2 separate regions of the Homo sapiens genome follow, and region 2 is linked to region 1. Evidence: fine-mapped expression QTL. A gene starts in region 1. The other region holds a variant in brackets. All regions are shown on one strand. Distances are between the middles of the regions. Region 1 holds the start of IL33 (interleukin 33). Region 2 has its middle 27 kb from the start of IL33.

Region 1 (16,129 bases):
CCCTGGATATTTCATTTCCATAAAGTTTTAACAGAACTGCCTTGTGCGGTGATCTAAAAATGCAACTCAAAGGTCTGGAAGCTTGACCACCATGGTATGACAAGCTTTTCACTTTGCCTCCTTTGTGGGCTACTCCAGCTATTCCCCAAATTGCTGACTTCATTATTTCTCTGTGGAATTCTTAGTTGGCTCAGCCTTACTTACCTGGTAGCTGGGCTTAGTGTGAAAGCTACTAAAATGAAAAGACTCTGTTAAACACCTCTCTTCTCCCCAAAGATAAGGCTAAATTATTTTCCCACTCTGGACAGATATGACTTCTTCTTGAGTGTACCCACTGATGCACAGAGAAATAAATATAATTGGTAGCCTTTCCTTTGCCAAGACACTTTTCATAAAATATGTACAGCGAACTGCCATTCTAGAGGTTACTAGTTGCTGCATGGTTCCACCTAGATAGTAAGGAGAACCAACGGGTCTAAACCCAGATGCTCTTTTACCAGCTTTTGCCATAAATGCCTAGAAAAAAATTGGATGCTGACAAAATAATAGACTTCTAAGTTTTATACTTTTATGAATTAAGAAATATAAAGACTTAAAAATATTTTTTTCTGTCACATCACAGTGCAAATGACCTTAATGCTTCTAAATGTTGAATCTGCTTTCATGGGCCTTATAGCACTGAGCAGAAATTCTTCCACTTGACATAATGGAAAGTAGTAATAATTGGACAGCCAGATGTAAGCATTACCTGTCAGGTCCTAGGCACGGTATCCTCCAAACATTTTTTGTAAAACAGCTTATACTCCTTTGAGTTAATAGCATCTAATTTTTTATATTAAATGACCACCACATACTGACAATTGTGATTAAGTTTCCACAAACCATATGGCTCTTGAATAAGTCAGTGAAGAAAAAATAATGCCACCATACGTGCAGGTAATATGGACCTTTTTTCTTATGGGGGAAAAAACAGGAAGCTGGAGATAGTCACCAAATTACATCAGAATGAATATTGGTACTTATTTCTGTGCCTGAAACTTGTTCAAAAGTTTAGAATGAAATATTACTAAAGGAAACTTAACAATTATGGGTCAGGTACAGTGGCTCACACCTGTAATCCCAGCACTTTGAGAGGCTGAGGCAGGAGGATTACTTAAGCCCAGGAGTTTGAGATCATCCTGGGCAACATAGTGAGACCTCATTTCTACAAAATGTAAAAAAATTAGCCAGGTGAGGCAGCACATGGCTGTGGTCTCAGCTACTTAGGAGGCTGAGGTGGGAGGATAGCCTGAGCCCCGGATGTCAAGGCTGCAGTGAGTTGTGATCGAGCTACTGCTCTCCAGCTTGGGTGACAGACTCTGTCTCAAAAATAAATAATAATAATAATAACAATAACAATAATTTACAAATATGAAGCAGTTATGCTGACTACTGATCAAGTATTGTTAAACAGGATTGCTAAAGAATGTGGACAAATAATATATATGTATAAGAGATAATGGAAAAATAAAATTTAGGGAGGAAAAACTTTGGAACTAATAAATTCAGATTTGAGGAAGTTCATGTTTGGGTCTAATAATTCTCCAAAGAAAAGAACAAGTGGAGAAAAGCATATAGTCCCCTAAAAAGAAATTACAAACAGCTTAAATAGCATTTCTTAAACAATTGCCAGTAATAAGCCAGCAGGCTAAGAAGTTAGAGTGGCTGAGATTTGAGCACAGCAGACACACAAAACTATGAAGTTCTGTTAAACTCTAAGGAAATATTGAATCTTTGCTAGGAACTATGTCGGAAATAATGAGCAAAACATTCTTACCATTGCAAAAGGTCTCAGATGCACTAATATGGCTAGGGAAAATTATGACAATCATTTAATTTATGGAATGTTCAAAGTGGAGGGGAATTAGATGTAAACTGGGTGCTGATTAAAAGTAAAGCGCTCAGCCAAGTTTGTGGGTGAACTTCTTAGTTCTGGAAATAGCAATGGGAATGGCAAAAAAAAGTTACAGAAGAGAACAATGGCTGGCAGGAACTCTTTCCCTAGGGCAAAAGGTGAATGTAGCCCTGAAGGAAATAGACAGAAGGTTTTAATGTCACTTCATCAATATTTTCATATTTGAAAATGATGGAAACTTTGAATAAGAAAATAGCTTCACAAAGAGGATTAGAGATGCACTAAATGAAGTAGTTTGGAATTGTTCTTTAGTTCTTTTTTCTTAATGGGACCTGACCCTGGACTTTAATCTCTGATCTGAAATTTACTGACTTTATGATTTTGGGTTAGTATTAAAATCTTTTCAAATCCCACTGTCTCAATTTCATAAATGGAGATAATATTTACCTCACAGAGGTGCTGTGAGGGATAATGTGGAAGATAAATGTCTCACTTTTAGTAAATGGTCAGTGATTAATAAATTACCTTTGATGACTGCTTCTAACTTGTTTTACCCATCACAACACCTGTCTTGAGTGGGATTTTGTTGCTTGTTTGTTTCACATTTTACACAAGAGAAAAAAATTCAGGCTCAGGAAAGTTAAGTAAGATCCAAAATTACACAGCTGGTCAATGATGGATGATGGACTGGAGGCCTGACTGCCTCTAAAAATTTGTGTCTTTACTATTATGCTATACTGCACTCTTCACTTAAAAAATACAAAACAAAAATAAATACCTTCGTAGGTATACTGTAATCTACCGATAATAACATGAGCAGCATGTGCCAGGAGTCCGCTATAGGGAGGAAGCGCCCCCAATTCCTCACTCCCCCTTACCACTCCCTGCATACTGAACTTTGCCTGAACTTTTTGAGGCCCACTAAGGTTGTGTCCCCTTAAAAGTTACTTTTGCTTGCAGACATCAGCACCAGAGAATCTACAGGAAACCGAAGAGATTAGACGTTCTACCATGATTTCCTGAAGTTCTTGAACCCAACCCAATCATTTTGTTGTTGATAGAATTAAGGTCCCTTTCTTTCTGCTGTTTCAGGAGTTTATATTTGGTCTTAATGTTTCTAAATGTTCCTGCTACAAACTGAGATACAAAGAAGGTGAATTCCAATGAACCTCTTGATTTCCACCATGTTTGCCAAAATTTCAACTTGAATGAAAGATACATTGATTTTGGCACAGTCTGACTGACATCTCCAGAAAAACCCTTATGGTATCAGATTTACTGACATATAAATTTTCTGATGTAGACATATATATATATATATATATATATATATATATATATATATATATGGAGAACATATATATATATGGAGAACATATATATATATGGAGAACATATATATATATGGAGAACATATATATATGGAGAACATATATATATATGGAGAACATATATATATATGGAGAACATATATATATATGGAGAACATATATATATATGGAGAACATATATATATATGGAGAACATATATATATATGGAGAACATATATATATATGGAGAACATATATATATGGGGATATATATATGGGGACATATGTATAGGGAGAAAAAATATATATATAGGGAGAATATATATGTGTATATATATATATGCATATATATATTATCTCAATGCTGACCCTTCTTCAGTATTTCCCTGTAATGATTTAATTCCCTGATGGAGCTTAACTTTTCACAATTGAATTTCATGCCTATTTCCCCGAAGTTAGTTGTAAGCTCTATTTCCTTAATCACTGGGAAACCCTGGCCAAGAGTGACATTTCCTGTTTCTCAATCTCTTCCATTGTTTTCAGTTCTGGCTATTTCAATCCCTAAGTGAAAGTTTGCCTCAGGATTCTTTTCTCTCTATAAATGGGAAAGGGAAAGAGGTGCTTTCTGGCTGTAGATACTGTAAGCTAAACAATGATGTGAAAGAGATAAACATCTAGGTTACTTAAGAAATCAATTATGAAGTAACCAATCAAAGATTGGTAGAAGGTCCAGGATCCTTTCAGAGAAGAATGGAGAAAATGTGAAATATGAGCTGAGGAAAGTGCGATGCTTGTGCTAGAAGTTCTTAACTGTTTCAGACAATACCGAGCTGTGTGATTCAGTTCAATCACCCTAAACTTTGGGAAATAGAGGATTCTGAAGTTTTCTGAACTCAGAGAGGTACATTTTCTGGGTGGAAATCAAAAGAGGAGCATTAAGTATTCAAAAGACAAATTTGAGAAGCAATAAGTAAGACTGTTGGAAACAGTATAGGACCCCAGTGTGGCACAGAAGGATGCTTCAGCGGGAGAAGCACAGTGCAGAGGAGGAAATACGGGTCTTTGCCCTAGACACTTCACTCTCAAGTCTCTGACTTGTATGCAGCCACAGGACATACTTTTGGATTTGTGCTATTTTCTTAATTAAAATAGTCTGGAGGCATATATTCATGTGTGGAAAGAAAAGGCAGAGAAAATTGTGAGGAGGCAGAAAGCAAGGAATAAAGAAAAGAAAACAATCTTCAAAGGAAAGTCTGTAAATGAAGAATAGTAGCAAAACTGATGAGCTTTTGAATTTCTCCACTTAGGGTATCAATTCCTTGTTTTTCCACAAAAGTTTATTTTTGAGGGGGTGGTACCTCTCAATTCTTGTATTTGAAACTGACAGTGAGAAATAACAGTGAGAAAATTATGACAGTGAAGGAGATCTGACATAACCAACCCCCATCATGCTTTTAACTTCCATATTGCCTTTGGTCATTCCTGGGCTTGGGCCAAGCTAACTTTGGGAGAAATTTAGGGTATGGTTTAAATGATAATAACCCTTCACCAAAAGTAAACCACCTTGGTAAAAATAATGAAAGACCACCAAGTTAGGAGTTTGAGAGGGTCCTGAATTCTGCTAAGATGTAGGCATAGTAAAATGATTACTAGCCATGATTCTGGAGGTCACAAGATTTGCAACTTCCCCAGTGACTACTGTAAATAACATCACTATTGTATAAGCTAAGATTGACCTTCAGAGATGTCTGTTCAGGCTTTTGCATTTCTGATGACCAGTGACTACTCTGTGGCTCCCACCCAGAAATAGACTCAGTGCATACACGAGGACCATTTTTCACATGCCTGTGATTTTATTCCCAACCAATCAGCAGCACCTATTCCCCTAAGCCCTTTGCCCATCAAACTAACCTTGAAAAACCCTAGCCTCCAAATTTTTGGGGAGATTTGAATAATAACTTTGAATCCTCTGTGGCATGGCTGGCTGGCCCTGTGTCAATTAAACTCTTCACTGCCATGCCATGGTTTCAGTGAATTGGTTTTGTCTGTGCAGATCAGAGATTAAAGTCCAGGGTCAGGTCCCATTAAGAAAAAAGAACTAAAGAACAATTCCAAACTACTTCATTTAGTGCATCTCTAATCCTCTTTGTGAAGCTATTTTTTATTCAAAGTTTCCATCATTTTTTTTGGAGATGACATTTAGCTCTTGTTACCCAGGCTGGAGTGTAATGGCATGATCTTGCCTCACTGCAACCTCCACCTCCTGGGTTCAAGCGATTCTCCTGCCTTAGCCTCCCGAGTAGCTGGGATTACAGGTGCCCACCACCACACCCAGCTAGTTTTGTTTGTTTGTTTTTGTATTTTTAGTAGAGACAGGGTTTCATCCTCTTGGCCAGGCTGGCTGCAAACTCCTGACCTCAGGCGATTCACCCACCTCGGCCTCCCAAAGTGTTGGGATTACAGGCTTGAACCACCACACTTAGTGATGTCCCCCTTTTACTGAAAACCACTTGTAAACAATTGCAAGCATGTTTGTCTTGAGTAAGCATTAGGAGTTAGAAGTAGAATTATCAACTTGCTTTATAAAGTTTCCAGCCTGGCAACAAAGCAAAGACCCTATCTCTACATAAACTAAAAAAATTACCCAGGCATAGTGGCGTGTGCCTGTAGTTCCAGCTGCTTGGGAAGCTGAGATGGGATGATTGCTTGAGCCCAGGAATTGGAGGCTGCAGTGAGCTAGGATCACGCCACTGTGCTCCAGCCTGCGCTACAGAGCAAGATCCCATCTCTTAAAAAACATAAAATAAAATAAAATAAAGTTTCATGGAGGGGGCAGAATTTACTATAAAAACTATTACAATCTCTTTCAGCAATTTATTAATTTTACAAATCACCCAAAGGAAAGCAAATGGAATTATAAGTTAGTAACAGCTATTGTCATTGACTTTTACTGCTATTAGCAATAATAACAAATTGGCCTTATCATTTATTTTTCAGGAAAAAAAAAAAAACACAGTTCTCCATGGTTCCCAAGGTTTAACTTTGCAAAATCTGACTAAAAATCTCCCAGAATATTCAGTCTTACCTTGTGATCTTGTTTTGATTTCTTCCCTGAAGAGCTGCAGCTCTGTGTTCGGAGGAGTCTGTAGACTCTTTTTATTAGCCAAAGTTTGGCAGAGACCCAAATTGCCTTAGAAGGGAGATCTGGGCGGGTGAGATTTTAGCAGGCTTGAAATCTCATGTAAAGAGCCAACAGAGTTACAATTCTGTCAACATCTAAGGCTCACTACTTTCTGCGTCCTCCCTCCATCTGAATATTTTAAACCAGCAATTATGATTCTTCTTCTGCCCCTAAACTTTATGTTTTGGCTCTCTTTGGAGTTGAACTCCTAAACTTCAACTTCAGCACTGTCCATTTTGAAATTCTGTTGCCATTTATATATTCACTTTTGGCCGTTGGCTTCTTAATTTACAAACTTCATTAAGAGATCAGTGTATTCTTCCAAATTCCTTTATAATAGAAATTTGCGACCCCCTTTGGCCTATCAGTAATAAGCAGCTCGTCTGCAAATAAAAGCTCTGAAATACTCTGTATTCCAACATATCTGACGGGCTTTCCTGCTCCCCACTGTTCATCTTTTCTTTCTATTCATCTCAAAAATCTCGCAGAAGATAATACTTTATCACAAAAGCAAATCCTGTACTATAGATCCCATGAGAAGTTGTTCTTCTTACCTCATGAGAAATTTTGCTCCTACTCACCCTCTCTCCATCTCGTTTGGCATCTGTAGCAGAAAATAAAGGGATGAAGTAATGCTCTTTTAAGACTTGGACTGATTCCACATCCTAAGATCACACATTGGAAGGAAGACTGCTGCTGTACTTAGAAGGATATTGTGATGGACTGTTACCCTAGCAAGCCTCTACATCCATTCAATCTACAAGATTAGAAGGGTGACCTTGAAACAAAGGGGCAGCAGAAAAAAGTTTACTGTAAAATGAAATAGGAATTTTTTAGTTTTTCTCATGGCATGTTGAAGGATAGAATGTTAGGGTTCTGGAATCCAGGGGAAAGAGAAAATGAGACAGCAACAGATGGCTGACCAGGCTTGGGAAAATGTGACTATGATGGAGTCCCCTTTGGAAAAAACAACTAAGGAACTCTGTTATCTTGTTTAAAGTTGTTTCATTTTCTGTGCAGTAATCCCCTTTAATCATCCCCAAACCTGAGCAATCATCTGCTACAAGCCATAGTGTTGCATTTGTGAGTAATGAAGAAAGATGGCTATGTCTGCCCTTTGGATAAAGCAGTGAAGCAAGCGGACAGGATGCCAACATGACAAGAATGAATCAGGAATTGAGCTGTGTGCAATAAATAGGAGGGAGGGGTGACAAGTAACAGCCAAGGGAATATTAGCATACTCTACTCTGGGAATTCTTGCAAATACTGAGGAAATTACAAAGGATGAATAATGTATCTTTATTATGTATATTGAACCCTCCTTCATTATTTCAAAAATTTCTCTTTTTATCTCTAATTATGCTTCATGCCTTAAAGTCTGCTTTGTCCATTTGTCTGCTTTCTCCATTAGCAGAGCTTTGCAAACATTCTTTTGGTTAGTATTCACATAGTGTATCTCTTTTCATCTTTTTTCTTTCAAACTTTCTGTGTCCTTACATTAAAGATGTGTCACATATAAGTAGTATACTGGTTTTTTTTCCCAGTTTGACAATAATTTGTCTTTGAACTGGAACATCTATTGTAATTATTGATATATTTGAATTTGCTTCTACTATCTTACTTTTTTTCTCTGCTATTTTGTCCCCCTGGCTTATGCTCTTTTTTGGATAAAACAATTATTTATTTATTTATTTATTTATTTTGAGATGGAGTCTCGCTCCGTCGCCCAGGCTGGAGTGCAGTGGCGTGATCTCAGCTCACTTCAAGCTCCGCCTCCCAGGTTCACACTATTCTCCTGCCTCAGCCTCCTGAGTAGCTGGGACTACAGGCGCCCGCCACCATGCCCGGCTAATTTTTTGTATTTTGTAGTAGAGACGGGGTTTCACTGTGTTAGCCAGGATGGTCTCGATCTCCTGACCTCGTGATCTGCCCCCCTTGGCCTCCCAAAGTGCTGGGATTACAGGCGTGAGCCACTGTGTCTGGCCTGGATGAAACAATTTCTAAAAATTATTCAATTTTCTCCCAGCAGTCATGAACTATAACTCTTGACTTTTTATGAAACAAGAACAAAACCAAAAAGGCTGCTAAAACCACAGCTCTGCTTTTAAGAGGCTGATTTTTTTTTTTTTTTTTTTTTTTTTTGCCTTTGCCCCCATGCAGCTGCGTAATTCGGCAAGTGTTTTGAAGAGGAAACTCATTATATGTAGGTTCAGTTCTCCAGCCCTCTCTTCTTGCTGGGGGCCTGGCCCTTCCAATTTCCAATTTTGTCTCTTCATTCCCACAACACCGATCAACAGTGATTTCTCTGTCTCCTGGCAGTGACCTCCTACCTTGGTAAAATACAGATTCCCTGCCTTGGCCAATGCTCTCGTAACTATTAAAAAGTAGCTAACTACTGTTAGCTAATCTCTCCATGGAATCTTAGCCCCTCATCCTTCGTGCTTCAGCAGCTCTCTCCTGATCTGCCTTTCTGGTTGTACTCAATGGTAATATTGGACTGCCACAAGTTACTCCATGCTATTCAAGTAGCTAGTTGAATGAAGATGAAAGCATGGCTCTAGAAGGCAGGACGACTAAGGGTTAGGTCATACAGACTTTATTCTAGTAATCGTATAATTTGTTATCTGAATCATAAATTTTTGAGAATGAAAAGAATGTTATTAATCATTTGACCAGAATAATAGGAAAACACTGAGATATGGTTACCCCAGGTTTTGTGACTTTTATAGTTCTTCATCCCTAACCCCACTACTTCCCAAATCCCAAATCTGCCTTATTAACTTCCTCCTTTCAGGGTAGATGCAAGGTATATGGGTGACTGTCTAAAATTTTGCTGACTCATAGACATATACTTGATCTGGTTGCACAATTTTATTCCCAAAGGAAGAAAGTTCAAATTGATGTTTTGCTACCAACAGACCTTAAAAAATGAAAATTTAAAGGGTATACTTCACATGGAGGAAGGTGAACCCAAATGGTAGGCCTGAATATAAGCAGAATTGAAGAATCAAAAGTATGATAGATATTGAGGTAATGCTAAGACATATTAACGGTAAATACTGACAATAATATCTTGTAAGGTTAAGAAAAACAAACTAGAACTAAATACATTACAAAAATAGCCTATATGTCTGGAGAGATGATGATAGGAATGAGAGTTCTCAAGTATATTGTATTGCTCAGGAAGAGGGTAAAAATATTGCTGAATTTTGAGCTCTGTATTCATTTTTAAATTTCTAGAAAAAATTCAGAATAATAGAAATTGGACATATAACTAACTTCCAAATGATTAGAGGAGAAAAACAGAATGAGAAAAAAATAGCAGTCTATCCAGCAGAAATCAAGAAAGAAGAGACAAAAAAGCATAGTAAAGGTAATACCAAGAGAAAAAACAAAGCATGATAGATTTAACACAAATATGTCAATAATCTCATTACATGGACTAAAGGTGCCAGTCGAAGAAGCTAAGATACTTAGACTTGAAAAGAAAAGATCCATGTAATGCTGTTTTAAAGAGACATATACTAAAGATACAAAGAAGTTACTGGTCAGGTGTGATGGTTAATACTGAGTGTCAACTTGATTGGATTGAAGGATGCAAAGTATTAATCCTGGGTGTGTCTGTGTGGGTGTTACCAAAAGGGATGAACATTTGAGTCAGTGGACTGGGGAAGGCAGATCCACCCTTAGTTATGGTAGGCACAATCTAATAAGCTTCCAGCGAATATAAAGCTGGCAGAAAAATGTAAAAAGAGAGACTAGCCTAACCTCCCAGCCTACATCTTTCTCCTGTCCTGGATGCTTCCTGCCCTCGAACATCAGACTCCAAGTTCTTCAGTTTTGAGACCCAGACTGGCTCTCCTGCTCCTCAAGCTTGCAGACAGCCTATTGTGGGAACTTGTGATTCTGTAAGTTAATACCTACTAAACTCCTTTATATATCTATTCTATTAGTTCTGTCTCTCTAGAGAACCCTGACCAATATATCGGGCATGATGGTTCCTTCCTGTAATCCCAGTGTTTTGGGTGCTGGGGTGGGCGGATTGCTTGAGCCCAGGAATTTGAGACCAGCCTGGACAATATAGTCTTTGTCTCTACAAAAGAAAATTAAAAATTAGCTAGGCATGGTGGCACATGCCTGTAGTCCCAGCTACTTGGGAGGCTGAGGCAGGAGGAGTGCTTGAGACCAGGAGTTTAAGGCTACAATGAGCTTTAAACATACCACTGCACTCTAGCCTAGGCATAGACCAAGAGTGAAACACTATCTCAAAAACAAAACAAAACAAAACAAAACAAAACAAAACAGAGGCTACTGAATAATGATAAAATTAAATTCATTGGGAAGAAATAAATCCCCACCCACAAACACCTGTTAACACAGTCTTAACTACATAAAATGAAAATAAAAGTAATTACAGAGAGAGATACAAATATCTATTATCCTAATGGGAAATTTGTTATGTCTTAGCAACGTTGTCAAGCAGGAAAAGCATTAGGAAGAATATAGAAATTTTGGTTGACACAATGAGCTGGGACACATGGATATATAAATAACACAATACAACAGGCAGAGAATACATACTCCCTTCAAGCACACATGGAACATTTGCAAAATTAAACATATTCTTATCTATCAAGTCAGTTGTAGAATTATTTCAATTGATGTCACCAAAAATGGCAGAATAAGGAACTTCAAGGTCTATCTCTCCGCAAAAACAACTAATAAGCTGGCGAAAACTGTCAAAATCAACTTTCACAGAACTCTGCATATAGTCGAAAGCTTATGACAGCCATGGAAAAGTTAATGAAGAAAGAAGAAGTTGATGCATTGCAGAAGAGAGTGCTGTGGCATTTTAAATTGCCTACTTGCTATCCCTCATCTGCCATCCCCCAGATCAATGGCAGTTATCAGGATGGTCGCCCATATTCCAGGTGCATGCTGCTAGTGCCAGAGGGACTAAATGGACCTTTTTCTCAAATAATTGTGATTGTGTGTTTCAGCCTGTCTGGGGGCTCCCTTAAGGACTAGTGTGACGAGTTGCCTTTGTTTCATCTGATTCAAAGTGTTTCCAGGGCTGGCATGGCTTCTCAGGTGGCATTTGCCAAAGGCATTAAAAGGTAAAAGTATTGGCTGCAGCAGCCTGGGGCAAGGGATAACAGTCAGAACAAGCAATAGACATATCAAAAAAGCCAGGGAAGAAAGAGGTTAGAAAAGGAGATACATGAGGGGAATAAGGACTTTGAAAAGTTCCCACATATACTGGGGAATCAAGAAGACAACACTCATTGCTAGGAAGGTAGACATGTTCAGAAAAGTCCTGAGAAGACCCCAGGCTTTCACCTCTGGCTGACTTTCAAGTTCCATGCAAGCAGGAAGTGAAGACCAAAGCAGAGTTGTAAATGGCTTTGCTATGCGTTGAAGGCATGTCCCAACACAGAGCCAATCTGAAAACACTAGGGGAATAATTTTTCTTTTTCTTTCTTCAGCTTCTATTTTTGGCTCTAGTTGTTTAAGGAAATCATTGTCATAACACTAGCTGACCACTAAGCTAATGGAACACCGACTTCAGTGACCACACATAACAAAGAATACAGACTGTAGAAAAATGTTTTAGAAAAGTCACTAAACAGACAGATAACAACAACCCACTACAAGCAACAACAACAAACCATGGGGATGTGGAGAACTGAATTTCCTGAGTTACTGTATTATAATGTGCAAAATGTCCACCTTTCAACACAAAATTATGAGACACTCAAACAATGAAGTATGGACTTTAAAAAGTGACAGTAATCATTCTTGAGAAAGACCAGATATATGACTTATTAGGCAAAGCCTTTAAATCAGCTGTCTTAAATATATTTAAAGAGCTAAAGGAAACCATGAAAATTATGTCTTTGCAAATAGAGAATATCAATAATAGAAATAATAGATATAAATTATAAAAAGGAACCAAATAGAAATTCTGAGGTTGAAAAGTAGAATAACTGAAATAAAAAATTCACTAGAGGGATTCAGTAGCAGATTTGAGCAGTCAGAAGCAAGAACCAGTGATAGGTTAATTGAAATGGTCCAGTCCGAGGAAAAGAAAGCAAAAAGAATGGGAAAAAAATGAGCAGAGTCTAAAAGGCCTGTAGGACATCATCAAGCATGCCAACAGGTGGACAATGAGAGTCCTATAGGGAAAGGAGAGAGAATGGAACAGAGAGAATATTTGGCAAAATGATGGTAAAAATGTCCCAAATTTGATTAGTAACCAAGATTTTAAACATTCGAAATACTCAATGAACTCCAAGCAGGATAACTCAAAAGATTCACACTGAGATACACTATAACCAAACGGTTAAAAGCCAAAGACAAAAAGCAAATCTGGAAAGCAGCAACTGAGATGTTTCTCACTATGTATAAGGGATACTCATGTGTAGGATTACCAGCTAGTTTCTCTTCAGAAGCCATGGAGGCCAGAAGACAGTGGGACAACATATTTAAAAGGCTGAGAGAAAAACATTGTCAACCAAAAATTCTATATCTGGAAAAACTATTCTTTAAAAATGAGAGAGTAAGTAAGACATTAAGAAATTAAGATGTTATCAGATAAAGAAAAACAGGGCAACATAGGGAGTTCATCACTAGTAGACCTGCCCTATAAGAACTGCTGCATAAATCCAGCAACATTCTAAGAAGGTTCTATGTCATAACTAAGTGAGGTTTATACCAAAAATGCAAGAGTGGTTCAACATATAACAACCAATCAATGTAATAAATCACACCCATAGAATGAAGGAAAAAACCCCACCCATATAATTATCTCAATAGATGCAGAAAAAGCTTTTGACAAAATCTGTCACCCTTTAATGATAAAAACCCTCAATGAACTAGAAAAAGAAGGGAACTTTCTCAATTGATAAAGGACATTTATGAAAAATTCACAGTGGCATTATTCTCAATGATGAAAGACTGAAAGCTTTCCTCCTAAGATGAGAAACTAGACAAGAGTGCCCATTTTCTTTTTTTGGTTTGTTTTTTGTTTGTTTGTTTGTTTTTAGCCCAACATTTTATTTTATTAAATTTTTTATATACTTTAAGTTCTGGGGTACATGTGCAGAACGTGCAGTTTTGTTTCATAGGTATACATGTGCCATGGTGGTTTGCTGCACCCATCAACTCATCATCTACTTTAGGTATTTCTCCTAATGCTATCCCTCCCCTAGTCCCTCACCCTCTGACAGGCCCCGGTATGTGATGTTCCCCTCCCTGTGTCCATGTGTTCTCATTGCTCAACTCCCACTTATGAGTGAGAACATGGGGTGTTTGATTTTCTGTGATTTTCTGTTCTTGTGTTAGTTTGCTGAGAATGATGGTTCCTAGCTTCATCCATGTCCCTGCAAAGGATATGAACTCATCCTTTTTTATGGCTGCATAGTATTCCACGGTGTATATGTGCCACATTTTCTTTATCCAGTCTATCATTGATGGACATTTGGGTTGGTTCCAAATCTTTGCTATTGTGAATAGTGCTGCAGTAAACATATGTGTGCATGTGCCTTTATAGCAGAATGATTTATAATCCTTTGGGTATATACCCAATAATGGGATTGCTGGGTCAAATAGTATTTTTAGTTCCAGATCCTTGAGGAATCACCACACTGTCTTCCACCATGGTTGAACTAATTTACACTCCCACCAACAGTGTAAAAGTGTTCCTATTTCTCCACATCCTCTCCAGCATCTGTTGTTTCCTGACATTTTAATGACCACCATTCTAACGGGCATGAGATGGTATCTCATTGTGGTTTTGATTTGCATTTCTCTAATGACCAGTGATGATGAGCATTTTTTCATATGTCTGTGGGCTGCATAGATATCTTCTTTTGAGAAGTATCTGTTCATATCCTTTGCCCGCTTTTTGATGGGGTTGTGCATTTTTTTCTTGTAAATTTAAGTTCTTTGTAGATTCTGGATATTAGCCCTTTGTCAGATGGATAGATTGCAAAAGTGTTCTCCCATTCTGTAGGTTGCCTGTTTACTCTGATGATAGTTTCTTTTGCTGTGCAGAAGCTCTTTAGTTTAATTAGATCCCATTTGTCAATTTTGGCTTTTGTTGCTATTACTTTTGGTGTTTTGGACATGAAGTCTTTGCCCATGCGTATGTCCTCAATGGTATTGCCTAGGTTTTCTTCTAGGATTTTTATGGTTTTAGGTCTTACATTTAAGTCTTTAATCCATCTTGAGTTAATTTTTGTATAAGGTATAAGGAAGGGGTCCAGTTTCAGTTTTCTGCATATGACTAGCCAGTTTTCCCAACACCATTTATTAAATAGGGGATCCTTTCCCCATTTCTTGTTTTTGTCAGGTTTGTCAAAGACCAGATGGTTGTAGATGTGTGGTGTTATTTCTGAGGCCTCTATTCTGTTCCATTGGTCTATATATCTGTTTTGGTACCAGTACCATGCTGTTTTGGTTACTGTAGCCTTGTAGTATAGTTTGAAGCCAGGTAGCGTGTTGCCTAAAGCTTTGTTCTTTTTACTTAGGATTGTTGTGGTTATGCAGGCTCTTTTTTGGTCCCATATGAAGAGTAAAGTAGTTTTTTCCAATTCTGTGAGGAAAGTCAATGGTAGCTTTATGGGGACAGCATTGAATCTATAAATTACTTTGGGCAGTATGGCCATTTTCACGATGTTGATTCTTCCTATCCATGAGCATAGAATGTTTTCCCATTCGTTTGTGTCCTCTCTTATTTCCTTGAGCAGTGTTTTGTAGTTCTCCTTGAAGAGGTTCTTCACATCCCTTGTAAACTGTATTCCTAGGTATTTTATTCTCTTTGTAGCAATTGTGACTGGGAGTTCACTCATTACTTGGCTCTCTGTTTGTCTGTTATTGGTGTATAGGAATGCTTGTGATTTTTGCACATTGATTTTGTATCCTGGGACTTTGCTGAAGTTGCTTATCAGCTTAAGGAGATTTTGGGCTGAGATGATGGGGTTTTCTAAATATACAATCATGTCATCTGCAAACAGAGACAGTTTGACTTCCTCTTTTCCTAATTGACTACGCTTTATTTCTTTCTCTTGCCTGATTGCCCTGGCCAGAACTTCCAATACTATGTTGAATAGGAGTGGTGAGACAGGGCATCCTTGTCTTGTGCCAGTTTTCAAAGGGAATGCTTCCAGTTTTTGCCCATTCAGTACGATATTGGCTGTGGGTTTGTCATAAATAGCTCTTATTATTTTGATATATGTTCCATCAATACCTAGTTTATTAAGAGTTTTTAGCACGAAGTGCTGTTGAATTTTGTCAAAGGCCTTTTCTACATCTATTGAGATAATCATGTGGTTTTTGTCATTGGTTCTGTTTATGTGATGGATTACATTTATTGATTTGCGTATGTTGAACCAGGCTTGCATCCCAGATATGAAGCCGACTTGATCATGGTGGATAAGCTTTTCGATGTGCTGCTGTATTCGGTTTACCAGTATTTTATTGAGGATTTTCGCATCAATGTTCATCAGGGATATTGGCCTGAAATTTTCTTTTTGTTGTTGTTGTGTCTCTGCCAGGTTTTGGTATCAGGATGATGCTGGCCTCAAAAAATGAGTTAGGGAGGATTCCCTCTTTTTCTATTGATTGGAATAGTTTCAGAAGGAATGGTACCAGCTTCTCTTTGTACCTCTTGTAGAATTCGGCTGTGAATCTGTCTGGTCCTGGACTTTTTTGGTTGGTAGGCTATTAATTACTGCCTCAAT
Region 2 (16,129 bases), 25 kb after region 1:
GTAGAGACGGGGTTTTGCCATATTGCCCAGGCTGGTCTCAAACTCTTAACCTCAATGATCTGCCTGCCTCAGCCTTCCAAAGTGGCATGAGCCATTACACCCCACCGAACTCCGTTTTTCATGAGTTGGTTTTACTCTGAGTTTAATTTTCTTCTTGTTGCAATGGTATGTCTATGTGAGACTTTCATTGCAGACCTTTTGCCACAGCCAGGATGGTCACACACAAATAGGTGCCTTTCCTCATGAAAAGAGAGGATACAGCTCTGTAGATTAAATACAGTCATGTGGGTTCTACCACAGCCTTCTCTTGAACATTGGCAAATATTTCTCTCTGGAGCAAGAGTTTTCATATATTGCTTAAGATAATCTTTGTGTTTAAAAATTTTCTGCCATATTCACATGTTATTTCCTCTATATGGGTTTTTTTTCCTCACATATTTCAGAAGTTCAACCCATGTTTTTGCCACAAAGGAACATCTCTTTTGACATCTAGCCCTCCTGAACCTCCGTGTGTCGTTTCAGCCTGCTGGGTCAGGCAGTATTTCCCACATCCTTTCTGGGTTCATTGGTATGCTGGCACTGATGGATTTTCAGCTACTGATCCTTAAAGATCTTTTTACAGCCTTCAAAATTGCATATATGTTGTTTGCTGAATCTCATCTTTGTGTTCAAAATATTTCTTCAAGTTTGATTTTGTGTTGAATTTTCTGTCACAGCCACTAGTGCATAAACAGCTTTTCTCCCATATGAATCAGGATGTTGTGACTCAGGTGGTAGACCCTGAGGAAAATCTTGCCACACCCTTCATAGTCACAAATGAATGGTCTCTTCCTCGTGTGCTTGCATAGGTGCTCTTCAAGCATCTGGACCTTATTGTAATTGGTGCTACATACAGTCCTGGAAGGAGCAGATGAACTTCTTAGAGAGTGCAGGGGAAGGAGGGGACAAGGGAGTGGGACTGGTCTCTAGCGGGCCACGAGAAATGCCTAGGCAATGCTCAGGGGTGACAATGCCTCGGCACCCACCCAGATCAGGTATGCAGCCACATGGGTGCACCAGCATATGGACCCAACACACAAAGCCAGCTACTTCCAAGAGCTCATTCTGGTGCCACCAGGCCCTGGCCTGTAAACACTTATTTCTGACCCACTAGTTTCACAGAATCATCATATTATATAATTTTCCTATTGCTTTTCCACCCCATACAAGACCTTCTGGGGTTATCTCTTTAAAAAATTAATTTGAAAAGGCCCTTTTTCCCATTTTCAAAATATTTGTTGATCTAACTGTGGTATTGAAACTGCCTTTGCAAAAATTGTAACAGTGAGAAAATTATGATGTGAAAGAGATCTCACCTAACTGACTCCATCTTATTTCCAACCTCCAAACTGCCCTTGTTCATTCCTGGGCAAAGGCCAAACTAACTTTTGGGAGGACTTCAGTTTGTAGTTTAACTTTGAAACAAAGATGATAACAGCCCTTTCCAGAAATGAATGTCCTTCTTGCCTGGGGACCAGATTGCCTTTGTAAGACGAACAAATTGGCAACAAGATTAGAAATTTTGGTTTAGGAGTCACTCAGCCAGGGGCCACATGATTCCAAACCTCCCCAGTCGCTCCTAGGGATAACATCGCTATTGTAAAACCCAAGATTAGTGCTTGAAATGTTTTTCAGACCCTAAAATTCTGATGCACCAGCTAGCACCATCCAGGCCAGTAATCTGGCTAAACCAGTTCTGCAATCCTGTCCAAAAACCAAAGACAGCAAGAAGAACCCACTTTGACCCCCTGTGATTTCATCTCCAACCCAACTTCTCAGCACTCCTCATTCTCTGGCCCCCTACCGGCCAAATTGCCCTTAAAAAACTCCAATCTCTGAATTTTCTGTCTTCTGTTTAGCTGGCTGTGCATGAATTAAACTCTTTGTCTATTACAATTCCTCTGTCTTAATAAATTGAGTTTATCTGGGCAGCAGGCAAAATGAACCCACTGGGCAGTTACAGTGTGACTTGAGCAATATACCTACTCAAATGTATCTACTGTAAATACTTTGAGTCTCTAGCTCTTGGTTTATTTTCAGCTAATTCCACAGAAGCTGGGATTGTTGAAAGACCTATCTTTATTTAGTGAAAAACAATAGAAACCAAATACCCTGGATCGAGTCAGGATAGAAAAATCTAAAGCTTAGCCCTTATATCCTGTATCAGGTATCTACTAATTCTCTCCTCCTCCAATTTTGTCTTGGCTTACAGCTATTGTTAGGTAATCTGACCCTATGTAAGCGCTCAAAGATGAAGTTGTATAAGTGGCAAAATGCAGAGACTTACAGGTGTGCCCTCTTGAAAGACATTTTAGTAAATACATGTGTGGTTTCTGGCTCCTATTGTTATTGAGGCCAGGCATTCCTGCTCCCATTGGTACTGCCATGAAGTACAATGTTTGGTTTCCATTTCATCTATAAGCTATAAACTCCATGGTGAACCTCATTATACTCAAACTTGTATTTCCGTGCCTAAGGTGGGCCCTGGCACATAGGAAGGTTTATTTCCTTTTAGACTAGAAGAATTTATTTCAGTTTTGTTGTTTGTTTGTTTGTTTGGTTTCACCACCGATATGGTGGTTATAAATTCTCTTATTTTTCTTTCCCTGATACTCTTATTTCACCTTCAATAATGAAAGACATTTTTGCTGAATGCAGAATTCCAAGTGGACAAGCTTTTCCCTTGTACTTTATTTATTTATTTATTTTTTTAGTTTGATTATGCTTTTTAATATTTTTTCTAGGTTATTTAATTTATTGGTGTACATTTTTTCTTTTCTTTTTTTTCATTATTTATACTTTAAGTTTTAGGGTACATGTGCACAATGTGCAGGTTAGTTACATATGTATACATGTGCCATGCTGGTGCGCTGCACCCACTAACTCGTCATCTAGCATTAGGTATATCTCCCAATGCTATCCCTCCCCCCCACCACCCCACAACAGTCCCCAGAGTGTGATGTTCCCCTTCCTGTGTCCATGTGTTCTCATTGTTCAATTCCCACCTATGAGTGAGAATATGCGGTGTTTGGTTTTTTTGTTCTTGCGATAGTTTACTGAGAATGATGATTTCCAATTTCATCCATGTCCCTACAAAGGACATGAACTCTGTTTCACTGTCTTGTGACTCCCCTTCTATTGCTTCTTATGAGAAAGCAGCCATCATTTTAATTGTTTCCCTGTATTCAATGTGTCATTTTTCTTTGTCTTCAAATATTTTTCTTCCATAGTTTGATTATGATGTAAATAGGAGTGTTTTTTCTACTAATTCTGTCTAAGCTTCATAAATTTGTAACTATATGTTTTATGCCACGTTTAGGGAATTTGGGCCATGATTTTCCTCTCAATTCTCTCTCTCGTCTTCTTTCAGGTCTTCAGTTTTGAATTGTCTCACAGATCCATAGGCTCTGTTAATTAAAATTTATTTCTCTGCCTTCTTCAAATCAGATAATTTCTATTGACTTGTAAGTCCATTGTTTCTTTCCTCCATCATTCCATTTGGTTCTTAAGCTTACCCAGTTAATTTTATATTTCAGCTGTTTTGTTTTTCAGTTCTAGAATTTCTATTTGGGCTTTAAAAAAATAATCTCTTTTCTTCTGCTGAAATTTCCCACTTTTTATTAGCTGTGAGCATATTTTCCTTTTTACTACTGAGCATCATTTTAATATACAGTTTTAAATAATTGTTGGCCAACATCTGGGTCATCCTAGCTTGTTTTCTATTAATCTTTCTCCTATGAATTGGTCATGTTTTCCTGCTTCTTTGAATGTTGTATAATTTTTTTTTTGAGATGGAGTCTCGCTGTGTTGCCCAGGCTGGAGTGCAATAATGCAATCTCAGCTCACTGCAACCTCCGCCTCCCAGGTTCAAATGATTCTCCCGCCTCAGCCTCCTGAATAGCTGGGATTACAGGAACCCACCATCATGCCCAGCTAATTTTTGTATTTTTGTAGAGATGAGGTTTCACTGTGTTGGGCAGGTTGGTCTTGAAGTCCTGACCTCAGGTGATCTGCCTGCCTTAGCCCTCTAAAGTGCTGGGATTACAGGTGTGAGGCACTGCATCCGGCCTGAATGTTGCATAATTTTGGATTGCATCCTCAATATTGTGAATGATGTGTTGTAAAAATTCCGGAATCTGAATGTTCCTCTGAATAGTACTGATTTTAAGCATATATTTAACTTTTATAGAATGAAACTGTAACACTGTATTTCCACTGTGATGAGTGTAGCTGAAATTTTACTTCAATTCCTTTAACTTTAACTAATTTGCTTTGAGTCTTTCCCCAATAGTCATGTTCAAGGATCACTCAGAGATTTGGGAAAATTTTGTACCTAGAATATGAGACCCATTGTTTGGCTCTCTCCTTTCTGGGAGTTTCTTCTTCACTTTCCAGTGGATCTAGTTCCCCAAACACAAGTCCTTTTCTCTGATTCTTAAGCCAGTAAAACTAGGATTTTCTATAAGAGTTTTAGCCACCCCACATGGTGAAAACACACATACGCAAAATGGGAGTTGATGTCTGTTCTTTTCTGCCCAGCATTGACTTCCCTCAGTATCTATCTGTTTTTATTCTCTATTTGGTACCTTCAGTTGTTGGTTTTGGAGGAAGAAAAACATGGGTAAACTTGAAGAGAGACTGAGAGAGATTAAGCTATCTCAAGAACAGAGAGAAAAATAATGGGAAAAAAGTGTCAGAGCACCATTAACCGTGCAGACATAAGTGTAATTGGTGTACTATAAGGAGAGGAGACAGAAAATAGAGCAGAAAGTATTCAAAGAATTCATGGTCGAAGAGTCCCCAGATTTCATACAAATTATTACTCTACATATCTAAGAAACTCAATGAATTCTAAGTGAGATAGATGCAAAGAAATCCACACACAACACATTACTGTAAAAATGTTCAAAGCCAAAGCCAAAGCAAAAATATTGAAAGCGTAAGAGAAAAAGGACTGATCATGTATAGTGGAATGCCAATGATGCTTACAGCTGAATTCTCATCAGAACCAATGGATGCCAGAAGGCAAGAAGGTAACATTTTGAAGGTACTGAAAGACAAAAAGTTGTCAATCAACAAGTTTATGTCCAGCAAAACTATCTTTCAAAAAAAGGCAATTTCTCAAAGAAAATATGCAAATAGCCAACAATAAATGAAAAGAGTCAATATCATTATCTATCAGGAAATGCAAATCAAAACCACAGTGAGATATCACTTCATACATGATAGGATGGTTAAAATATAAAAGAGACATAATAACAAGTATTGAAAAAGATGTGGAGAGTTGGAACCTTCAGATCTTGCTGGTAGGGATGTGAAATGGTGCAGCCACTTTGGAAAATAATCTGGAAGTTCCTCAAAAGATTAAACGTAGAGTTCTTATATGACCCAGTTATTCACTCCTCAGTATACGCTCTACACAATGGAATATTATTCGACAGTATAAAGCAATGAAGTACTGGTACATACTGCAACATGAAGGAGCCTGTAATACATTATGTTAAGTGAAAGAAGCAAGGTACGAAAGACTACGTATCAGTGAGTTTTTTGTGTGAGTCCATTTATATGCAAGGTCCAGAATAGGCAAATCCAAAGAGATAGAAAGTAGATTAGTGGTTGCCAGGGTCTGGGGTGGGAAGAAGGGAGAGAAAGGGAGGAACTGCTAATGGGTATGGGGTTTCATCTGAGGTCATGAAAATATTCCAATATTCTGGCTGAAGTTACACAACTGTGAATATAGTATAAACACCATCGATCTGTTCACTTTTAAGTGGGTGAATTGTGTGTATGTGAATTATTAATTATTTCAATAAATCTGTTTTTTTTTTAACTAGTCGTTAAAAGCAACCACAACAGCCACCCACACAGCTGATTTCTTAAGTTAAATGCTGGTGTGATGTCTCCTCTTCATTCTCCTTGGCCTAGCCTAGGTCTTGTGAGAATGACCTCTCTGTATCATTTGTCATCACATTCAGTGGCAACAGCAGGAGCTAAATTTATTTTTTGGTTATCTTTTCATCCCTCAAATTGTCACACCTATTTTTCAAGTTCCCCAAAAATGGTAATTCTATGATAATCCTTAGTAACCATTAGCATAAAATTAAAACATTTACCTTAGGTTCTTCTACTATGCCTGCTAGAAATTTAGACTATTTATTACAGCTCTCTTTTCAAGCAAGAACAAAATCTGCCTTTTGGACCCATGTAAGGCACTATATTTTAATACCTTTGAATGCTACTATTATTTTGGGGAAACTGGAAAGGACATCGGACTGGATATCAAGAGACCTGCTTTCTAGGCCAATCTTTGTCCCTTGCTAGGACAGAGGAGAGCCATCATTCTTCATTTTATGTACATTTTTCAAAAGTAGGGAATTTTTGATAATTTGTAGTTATGACAGTTAATATTATGATGAAATATATTGAAGGAGATATGTAAAATCAAGTGTCCATTTACTCAATACTAGATTGTAACATCCGTGGCTGCACTCAAAGGGTGGCATATTTTTATGTGGGAGCTCTCCACTAGTCAATGGCACAGACCCACCACTGACCTGGCTCCATTGTCCAGTCCCACTCTTAGAGGAGAAAGGCTCTGGCCAAGACTGTTCCAGAAGGATAATACCTTTTTTTTGGTCTCTTTCCCAGATATAAGAAACCTGGTGACATTTCTGCCTCCAAATTTTTGTGTAATTTAAGAACAGTTTCCTCCTCTGAGCTTAGGTTCTCTGATCTAAAATATGAGAGGTGAGAGTCTTTAAAGCATCATCCACTACTAGTATCTTATAATTCTATTTCAGCATAAACATCTTTAATTCCCAATCTTTTCTCATGAAGACACCATCATGACCTCTTATTCTTATTTATATCTTTTGGACTCCAAATACTTCATTTTAGAGATCTAGTGCTCTGAAGGGTCAAAGGGGCACCTTGTGAAAAGCCATATTTGTCTCTTTACATTCACCATGACTTATACTAAATTATAATAAGTGTGAAATGTCTCCACGGACAGATACAAAATAATTTTGTATCTTCTGGCCAGGGTCCGGTGGCTCAATGCCTGTAATCCCAGCACTATGAGAGGGCAAGGCAGGCAGACTGCTTGAGCTCAGGAGTTTTAAGACAAGCCTGGGCAACATGGTGAAATGCTGTCTGTATCAAAAATACAAAAAACAAAAAACAAAAAATTAGCTGGGTGTGGTGACGTGCCTGTAGTCCCAGCTACTTGGAAGGCTGAGATGGGAGGATCACTTGAGTCTGGGAGGTGGAGGTTGCAGTGAGCCTAGGTTGTGCCACTGCACTCCAGCCTGGGTGACAGAGTAAGACCCTGTCTCAAATAATAATAATAATAATAATCTGTTCCATCTTCCAAGTGAATTATGAAGGTATCCACAATAAGACCAGCAGCCAGGGTTTCTCTCTTCCAAAGAGTGTGTACGAACATAATTTTTCTGAGTATAGACCTATGTTTGTGATTTGAATTAGGCTGTCACTAAGTAAGGGTTTAAAATTTGTTGTGCATCATGTTTCTCTTCTGAGAAGTGTCCTTTCTAGAAATCCCATTTAACACTCCCTGTCAGCAACTACTTCATTTTTCCTCCATATCTGACTTCCTCATGTAATCCATTTCTATTGTACCCTAGTTCCTGATAGAAGCTTGACTGAGTCAAACATCTCTGGAATGTGTCTGTGTTCATGCACCTAAGCCATAACCAAGCAAGTGCTGGGTGAAAGAGATGTAGGAAACCAAAATTTGTTGAACGCCTTTGTGCCAGGTACTTTTTACATACATTATATCATTACATATAAAACGTTACGTCATAATTTATGTAACATTCCTATGAGGGATTCTATCATCCCTATTTTACAGATAAGGAAAACTGAGGTTTGGTTAAGTTATTTGCCTAAGATAACACTGCTAATAGGTGGGGGAGCCTGGTTTAAACACAAGTCTGTTCAATTGTACTGCATCTTACTGATTGTACTCATGTGTTAACATTCCCACCAAAAGTGTAATAGTAAATCACTCTCAGTTATTAATTGGTGTTCAATTAGAAAGGCAGAATTTCTCTAGGCATTCAAACAGAGAGAATAAAATCCAAGGAGGGGCAAAAAGGGCCAGTGATGGTACCCAGAATTCAAAAGAGCTATGTTGCTGAGGTTGCCAGCATCCTTTTGTTAATGCTGCTGCTGCTGCTATTGAAACCACTGCTGCTGTTACCTTTCAAGAGGCTGAGAATTTGCACATTTACAGAAGCTGCAAGAACTTGGGAGCCCATAGTCCCCTTGATGTTACTGGACTCACTGCCAAGACGTCTGGATCCTGTGGCTGCCTGTGGCTACTGCCAGATCCAGAAACAGAAAATGGAGGATAAAATAGCTTCTCCCTTTTGCCTTCTGGTCTTTCTCTGAGACCTGCCTTTGGGAAAATCTAACTGGAAACTACCTAGTTAGGAAACTTGGGAATCTAGTTTGTAAATTTTTAGCACCTTACAATATAGAGAATATTGAAGGGCAGGAATTAAGCTAAAAGTCAGCTTTCCCAGGGAGTTGTTATTTGTTTTGTTATTTAGTTATTTGTTTTGTTATGTTTTGTGACAAAGTCTCACTCTGTCACCCAGGCTGGAGTGCAGTGGTGCAATCATGGCTCACTGCAGCCCCGACCTCCTGGCCTCAAGTTATCCTCTGGCTTCAGCCTCCCGAGTAGCTGGCACTACAGGTGTGTGCCACCAAGCATGACTAATTTTTAGAATTTTTTTTTTGTAGAGACAGAGTCCCACTATGTTTCTCAGCCTCGTCTTGAACTTCAGGGGATGATGAGCATCCCCTCTTTTCATATAAACTGTGTTGTGAGTCAGTGTCCCCGGGATGAGTGCTGCAAAGCTCAGAGGAATTCATACTAACCATTTTTCATTTTTAAATATCTACTGAAGATTCAACATTCAAAGGAAGAAAATGAATTGGTAACCTTGGGAAGGCCTGCACCTTCACTAGGAGAGGTAATTTTGGCAAAGTAAAATAGGGATCTGTCACCCAAAGATATGGAAATTGTTCCTGAGCAGAAAACACACAAACAAAACCAGCTACCCCTGCAGTCCCTGTTACCAGGTACTGTTCTCTACTTTCCTCCCTCCACCCTATAGAATATAGCCTATTCTATATTCCTCTGGGATAATGGCTTCCATTCTTCCTTCCTGGGAATTGCAGCCTAACTCTTGTCGCTAGTCTGGTGGCCTGGAGCTTGGTGACCCACCCTGGACAGTCCTTCTGAGCCTCAGACCTGGTATCTATATATTTATTGAATTATCTAGTTACTTTAGCTTGCAACTTTTGAGAGTAATTATTAAGAGCAGGTTTTGCTCAAATGTAAACAGAAGTTTTAATGAACTTTCAACTCTCTTCTTCAATCAGATAAATATTTCTTGGCATCCTCTGCACCCTGGACAGCTCCCCAAGTGACCTTCTGTTACTCACAATCTCTTCTAATTTCCATGAAAAGTGAATTAAAGCCATGACATTATCTTCCCATTTGGTCTATATCTTTCTTTACCTTCTTTCTTCCTCCCAAAGTCTGGCCCACTTCATAATAAATATCACTGTGGCTACCACTTATTGAGCACTTACTATGTTGAGCACCTACTATGTGCCTGGGGCTTTATACACAATGTTTTGTTTAATCCAGATCAGAACCCCAAAGAAGTTCTCATTACAAAGACAGAAGAATTAAGGCTCACATATCTAGTTAGTGATGAAGTTCATATTTGAGCCCAAGTCAGCCTGATTCCAA[G/T]ACCTGCATTCTTTTCATAGAAGTATGGGATATGTATTACCTCCAATATGGGTACAGGAGATGCAAGAGAGGTCAGAGTCTACTTGGACTTCTTTCCAGGTCTTTGTTTCAAAAGAACACTTTAGACAAAACAGGATGTAAAAATATAAACAGAATGAGAAAAGCAGGAAATCCCCATCTTTATGATAGCTTTACTCTCAGCCTTTCAGGATGAACTTACTGATATGAATTGGCTGTGTCTCCACCCAAATTTCATCTTGAGTTGTAGTTCTCATAATCCCCACTTGTCATTAGAGGGACCCAGTGGGAGGTAATTGAATCGTGGGGGCAGGTTTTTCCCATGCTGTTTTTATGATAGTGAATAAGTCTCACAAGATCTGATGATTTTATAAAGGGCAGTTCCCCTGCACACGCTCTCTTGCCTGCTGCCATGCAAGATATGCCTTTGCTCCTCCTTCGCCTTCCACCGTGGTTGTGAGGCCACCCCAGCCATGTTGAACTGTGATTCCATTAAACCTCTTTTTCTTTTTCTTATTCCTCCCCCTTCCCCTTCCCCTTCCCCTTCACCTTCTCCCTCCCTCCCTTCCTTCCTTCCCTTTTTGTTTTTGTTTTGTTTTGTTTTGTTTTTTTGGGGATGGAGTCTCGCCCTGCCACCCAGGCTGGAGTACAGTGGCGCCATCTCGGCTCACTGCAACCTCCACCTCCCAGGTTCAAGCAATTTCCCTGCTTCAGCCTCCCAAGTAGCTGGGATTACAGGTGTAAGCCACCGTGCCTGGCTCCTAAACCTCTTTTCTTTATAAATCACCCAGTCTTGGGCAGTATGAAAATGGACTAATACACTTACATATAGCGATCCCCATATTTCTGGAGACTATGGAATTTAGCCTCTGCTTTGTTTTAGCTTGCTAATAGAAAATTAAAATGTTAAAGTTTCAAAAAAATTATTCTACAACTTCACTCAGAGGCATGACTTGGTTTGGTTTGGTTTAAAGGTGGTATCCTTTGCTGTTTAGGAGAAATAATATGTGAACTAAAAGAATCCTTTACAGTAAATATATAAAACTCATTATTTAAAGAAATATAGCACCTGCAAGTATGATAACAGCTGCCTTCATTTAGACATAGCTTTGTCTTTAGCCAGGAACCTTAATTAACTCAGGATTCTTAACACAATCCTGAGAAATACAGAGTTAGAAAGGAAGGTTGTGCACATTTACTGAGTATCTATAATGTTCCAAGCTCTGTCATTATAACCTGCTGTCTCTATTTTATTTAGTAAGTTTAAGAAAGGTTTTGAGAGGGTCATAGAAAAACATATCATTGGAGAATTATCTAGAGAACCAAAAGAGGACAAGTCTAAAAAGAGACCATGGTGAGCCTCAGTTTCAGGCCATCTTTTCTTCTCATTCTATGTATTCTCCCAGCTTCATTTTATTCATGCCAATATCTATACTTACCATTTATTAATGAATGATTCTCAAATCTACATAACAATTCAGACCTCTCCGCTAAATTCCTTTTTACATATCCAGCTGTTTTCTGAATATCTGCCTTGGATGACCCACAGGCTTCTCTGAAGTGTCATGCCCCAGATGAAAGTATTTTCCTGCCACTCAGCTCCTGTTCCTTGTTTCATGGTCCAGTGAATGGCACCACCATCCACTCTATTGCCCAAATCACCTATGCAGTTTCCTTGGCTTTTTATTTTCCCTCACTGTTCTCTATCCTACCCCATCCCCCAATCTAATAAATGGCCAAATCCTGTCAACTCTATCGTCCAAATATCTCTGGAATCTACATGCTTCTTTCCATCAGCCACTCAGCTAAGCTTTCAGGCGTTAGAGTAGCTGATTAAAAATAGCCAAAATGAAAGTAACAGTCAAACCTTGACTCCCCTTTGTTTCATTTCCCCCAGTGGAACAGTGTGTTGGTGGAGTCAACTCACTGTTTAGGGATCTCCAACCAAAAGGCACCTGCAGTTTTATGGACCCTGGAGCCAGAAGTGAGGAAGAATGGGAGGGCTGCAAGTAGAAAATATCGAGTACTGAGTCAGAGTGGGTAAAGTGTCTTCAAGCTTCCCTGAAAAGAAGAAGACTTCCAAATGGAGGTGCCTGGGCCATGAATGCAGATATGTATAAGAGCATAGCTGGCCAGGAGGCCTGAATCTTTGACTGCAACTCTCCTCAGACACTGCAATGCATTGGCTCTGTACCAAGTCTGGTGTGGGAAGGGCAGCTTTTCCTATGAGGCCTTCCAGGCAAAGCCTTTGCAATTGCCTGTGGCTGGGCCTGAAATATCACACATACGGTTTTGGCCAGGAGTTAAACTCCTCACTCCTGAACCCCAGTTCTGCTACCTGAGCCCAGGCCACCATCCTCTCTTACCTCCAGAATTACAGCAGCCTCCTTAATGGTCTCCTTGGAGCCGGTCTTTGCCATCTTCCAATCTGTTTTCCATAAAGCAGCCAGAGGGATTGTTATAAAACACAAATCTGACCTAATCATGCCTGTATCAGTCAGGGTCCCAAAAGGAAATAGACTTTAATTCAGATGGTTCAAATGAAAAGCTTTGATGAAAGGGCTACTTACAGAGGTGTGGGCAGAATGAAAGAGACTAGAAACAGGGGAAGCCATATTTATCTGTAGGTCTGAAGAGACAAGAAATAGTTACTCAGTGAAAGCTGGAGCCACAAAAGGGCTGCCTGGCAGGACCTGTGTTCAAGGAGGGATACATTTACTATCGGGTGTAGCACTGAAGCAAGGGGACCCAGGGAAAAGGCACCGCATTGGCTGAACCCATCTGGAAGCCAGTAGGCAAGGGAGAGTGGGTGACAGACCCTATGGGGATCTGATTTCCAGGGCAGAGAATGGATCTGGAGGTATGGGAAACAAAAGAACCAGTGCAACTCTTCTACTTAACACCCAGCCATGTCTTCACATTGCATGTAGGGTAAAGTCCAAGCTCCTAAATTTGGCTTCCAAAGCCTTCCTGATCTGGGCTGAGCCTTTCTTCGCAGTTTGTATTACACACTTCATCCTGAGCTCTTGCTCTGTACTTTCGCCATACTCAACTTACTTTCGTTCTCTCCTATCCAGGCCTTTGTAAGGGTTATTCTCTATCCCAGAAATATTTTCTCCAACCAACCTCTCTTTAATCTGTATACATCTTTCTCACTTTTCAGATCTCAATTTAATTGTCACTGTCTGCAGAAATTCTATTGTCACATGGCCCTGACTAAGCATAGTGTTTTCTCATGGATTTCCATATCCTTCTTCCACATCAAAGCCTCCAATAAATTTCCAGTCACTCCCACTGTACTGTAAGCCTTGCAGAGCACAGATTGTATCTATCATGTTCACTGTTGTATCACCAGAGTGTGCCTGGTACTAGGAACTACTTAAGTATATATTAAATGAATGAGAGCTTATTATATTTCATGTACTTGCCATTCATTTTTTTTCATCGATTTCCTTCTATTTCTATGTTATGTTGAGGTTTTATTAGGGGAGATGGATGAATTTTATCAACACCTTTTCAGCAAGTGTTGATATGATTATGTAGTTTATCTTCCTTAATTTGCTGTTGTAATGAGTGATAAGTGATTGATTTTAGATCATACATTTGCATTCCTAAAATATACACAACTTGGTAATATTCATTTTATTAGAGGCTAGATTTTGTTTACTAATAATTTATTTAGAATTTTTGTATCTAGATTCATTTGTAAGAGTTTTACATTTTTATATTCTCCATCTGGCTTTGGAATTAGGATTATGCTGACTTCATAAAATAAATGAAGGAGCTTAAATAGGATTAGAACTATCTGTTATTTAAGAGTTAGAGAGAGCACTGTTACGAAACATCCGGTCCTGGCACCTTGTTTTAATGGTAGATCAAAATTCACCTGAGAGGAGCCAAGATGGCCGAATAGGAACAGCTCCGGTCTCCAGCTCCCAGCGTGAGCAACGCAGAAGACGGGTGATTTCTGCATTTCCATCTGAGGTAGCGGGTTCATCTCACTAGGGAGTGCCAGACAGTGGGCGCAGGTCAGTGGGTGCGCGCACCGTGCGCCAGCGGAAGCAGGGCGAGGCATTGCCTCACTCGGAAGCGCAGAGGATCAGGGAGTTCCCTTTCCTAGTCAGAGAAAGGGGTGACAGACGGCACCTGGAAGATCAGGTCACTCGCACCCGAATACTGACGGGCTTAAAAAACAGCGCACCAGGAGATTGTGTCCCACACCTGGCTCGGAGGGTCCTACGCCCACGGAGTCTCGCTGATTGCTAGCACAGCAGTCTGAGATCAAACTGCAAGGCGGCAACGAGGCTGGGGGAGGGGCGCCCGCCATTGCCCAGGCTTGCTTAGGTAAACAAAGCAGCCAGGAAGCTCGAACTGGGTGGAGCCCACCACAGCTCAAGGAGGCCTGCCTGCCTCTGTAGGCTCCACCTCTGGGGGCAGGGCACAGACAAACAAAAAGACAGCAGTAACCTCTGCAGACTTAAGTGTCCCTGTCTGACAGCTTTGAAGAGAGCAGTGGTTCTCCCAGCACGCAGCTGGAGATCTGAGAACCGGCAGACTGCCTCCTCAAGTGGGTCCCTGACCCCTGACCCCCGAGCAGCCTAACTGGGAGGCACCCCGTAGCAGGGGCAGACTGACACCTCACACGGCAGGGTATTCCAACAGACCTGCAGCTGAGGGTCCTGTCTGTTAGAAGGAAAACTAACAAACAGAAAGGACATCCACACCAAAAACCCATCTGCACATCACCATCATTAAAGACCAAAAGTAGATAAAACCACAAAGATGGGGAAAAAACAGAGCAGAAAAACTGGAAACTGTAAAAAGCAGAGCGCCTCTCCTCCTCCAAAGGAACACAGTTCCTCACCAGCAACGGAACAAACCTGGATGGAGAATGACTTTGACGAGCTGAGAGAAGAAGGCTTCAGATGATCAAATTACTCTGAGCTATGGGACGACATTCAAACCAAAGGCAAAGAAGTTGAAAACTTTGAAAAAAATTTAGAAGAATGTATAACTAGAATAATCAATACAGAGAAGTGCTTAAAGGAGCTGATGGAGCTGAAAACCAAAGCTCGAGAACTACGTGAAGAATGCAGAAGCCTCAGGAGCCGATGCGATCAACTGGAAGAAAGGGTATCAGTGATGGAAGATGAAATGAATGAAATGAAGTGAGAAGGGAAGTTTAGAGAAAAAAGAATCAAAAGAAACGAGCAAAGCCTCCAAGAAATATGGGACTATGTGAAAAGACCAAATCTACGTCTGATTGTTGTACCTGAAAGTGACGGGGAGAATGGAACCAAGTTGGAAAACACTCTGCAGGATATTGTCCAGGAGAACTTGCCCAATCTAGCAAAGCAGGCCAACATTCAGATTCAGGAAATACAGAGAACGCCACAAAGATACTCCTCGAGAAGAGCAACTCCAAGACACATAATTGTCAGATTCACCAAAGTTGAAATGAAGGAAAAAATGTTAAGGGCAGCCAGAGAGAAAGGTCGGGTTACCCTCAAAGGGAAGCCCATCAGACTAACAGCGGATCTCTCGGCAGAAACTCTACAAGCCAGAAGAGAGTGGGGGCCAATATTCAACGTTCTTAAAGAAAAGAATTTTCAACCCAGAATTTCATATCCAGCCAAACTAAGCTTTATAAGTGAAGGAGAAATAAAATACTTTACAGACAAGCAAATGCTGAGAAATTTTGTCACCACCAGGCCTGCCCTAAAAGAGCTCCTGAAGGAAGTGCTAAACATAGAAAGGAACAACCAGTACCAGCCGCTGCAAAATCATGCCAAATTGTAAAGACCATCAAGACTAGGAAGAAACTGCATCAACTAACGAGCAAAATAACCAGCTAACATCATAATGACAGGACCAAATTCACACATAACAATATTAACTTTAAATGTAAATCGACTAAATGCTCCAATTAAAAGACACAGACTGGCAAATTGGATAAAGAGTCAAGACCCATCAGTGTGCTGTATTCAGGAAACCCATCTCATATGCAGAGACACATATAGGCTCAAAATAAAGGGATGGAGGAAAATCTACCAAGCAAATGGAAAACAAAAAAAGGCAGAGGTTGCAATCCTAGTCTCTGATAAAACAGACTTTAAACCAACAAAGATCAAAAGAGACAAAGAAGGCCATTACATAATGGTAAAGGGATCAATTCAACAAGAAGAGCTAACTATCCTAAATATATATGCACCCAATACAGGAGCACCCAGATTCATAAACCAAGTCCTGAGTGACCTACAAAGAGACTTAGACTCCCACACATTA

The links. PIP is the estimated chance that this variant, and not a neighbour inherited with it, causes the effect. A credible set is the group of variants that fine-mapping cannot tell apart.
Region 2: its variant is the best candidate, but not a certain one, in a credible set for the expression of IL33 in nasal epithelium (TOPMed, PIP 0.80).

Annotation. Positions count from the first base shown.
Region 1 is chr9:6,206,014-6,222,142 of GRCh38, reverse strand. IL33 (interleukin 33) reads right to left here and starts at 6,336. Exons shown (of 8, transcript NM_033439.4): 1 at 6,291-6,336.
Region 2 is chr9:6,180,830-6,196,958 of GRCh38, reverse strand. It overlaps the pseudogene GTF3AP1. Among named protein-coding and RNA genes, the nearest start is that of IL33, 27 kb to the left of the region's middle. RefSeq lists enhancers at 11,834-11,933, 13,408-13,992, 13,993-14,577. The variant G/T (reference allele first, on the strand shown) is at 9,827.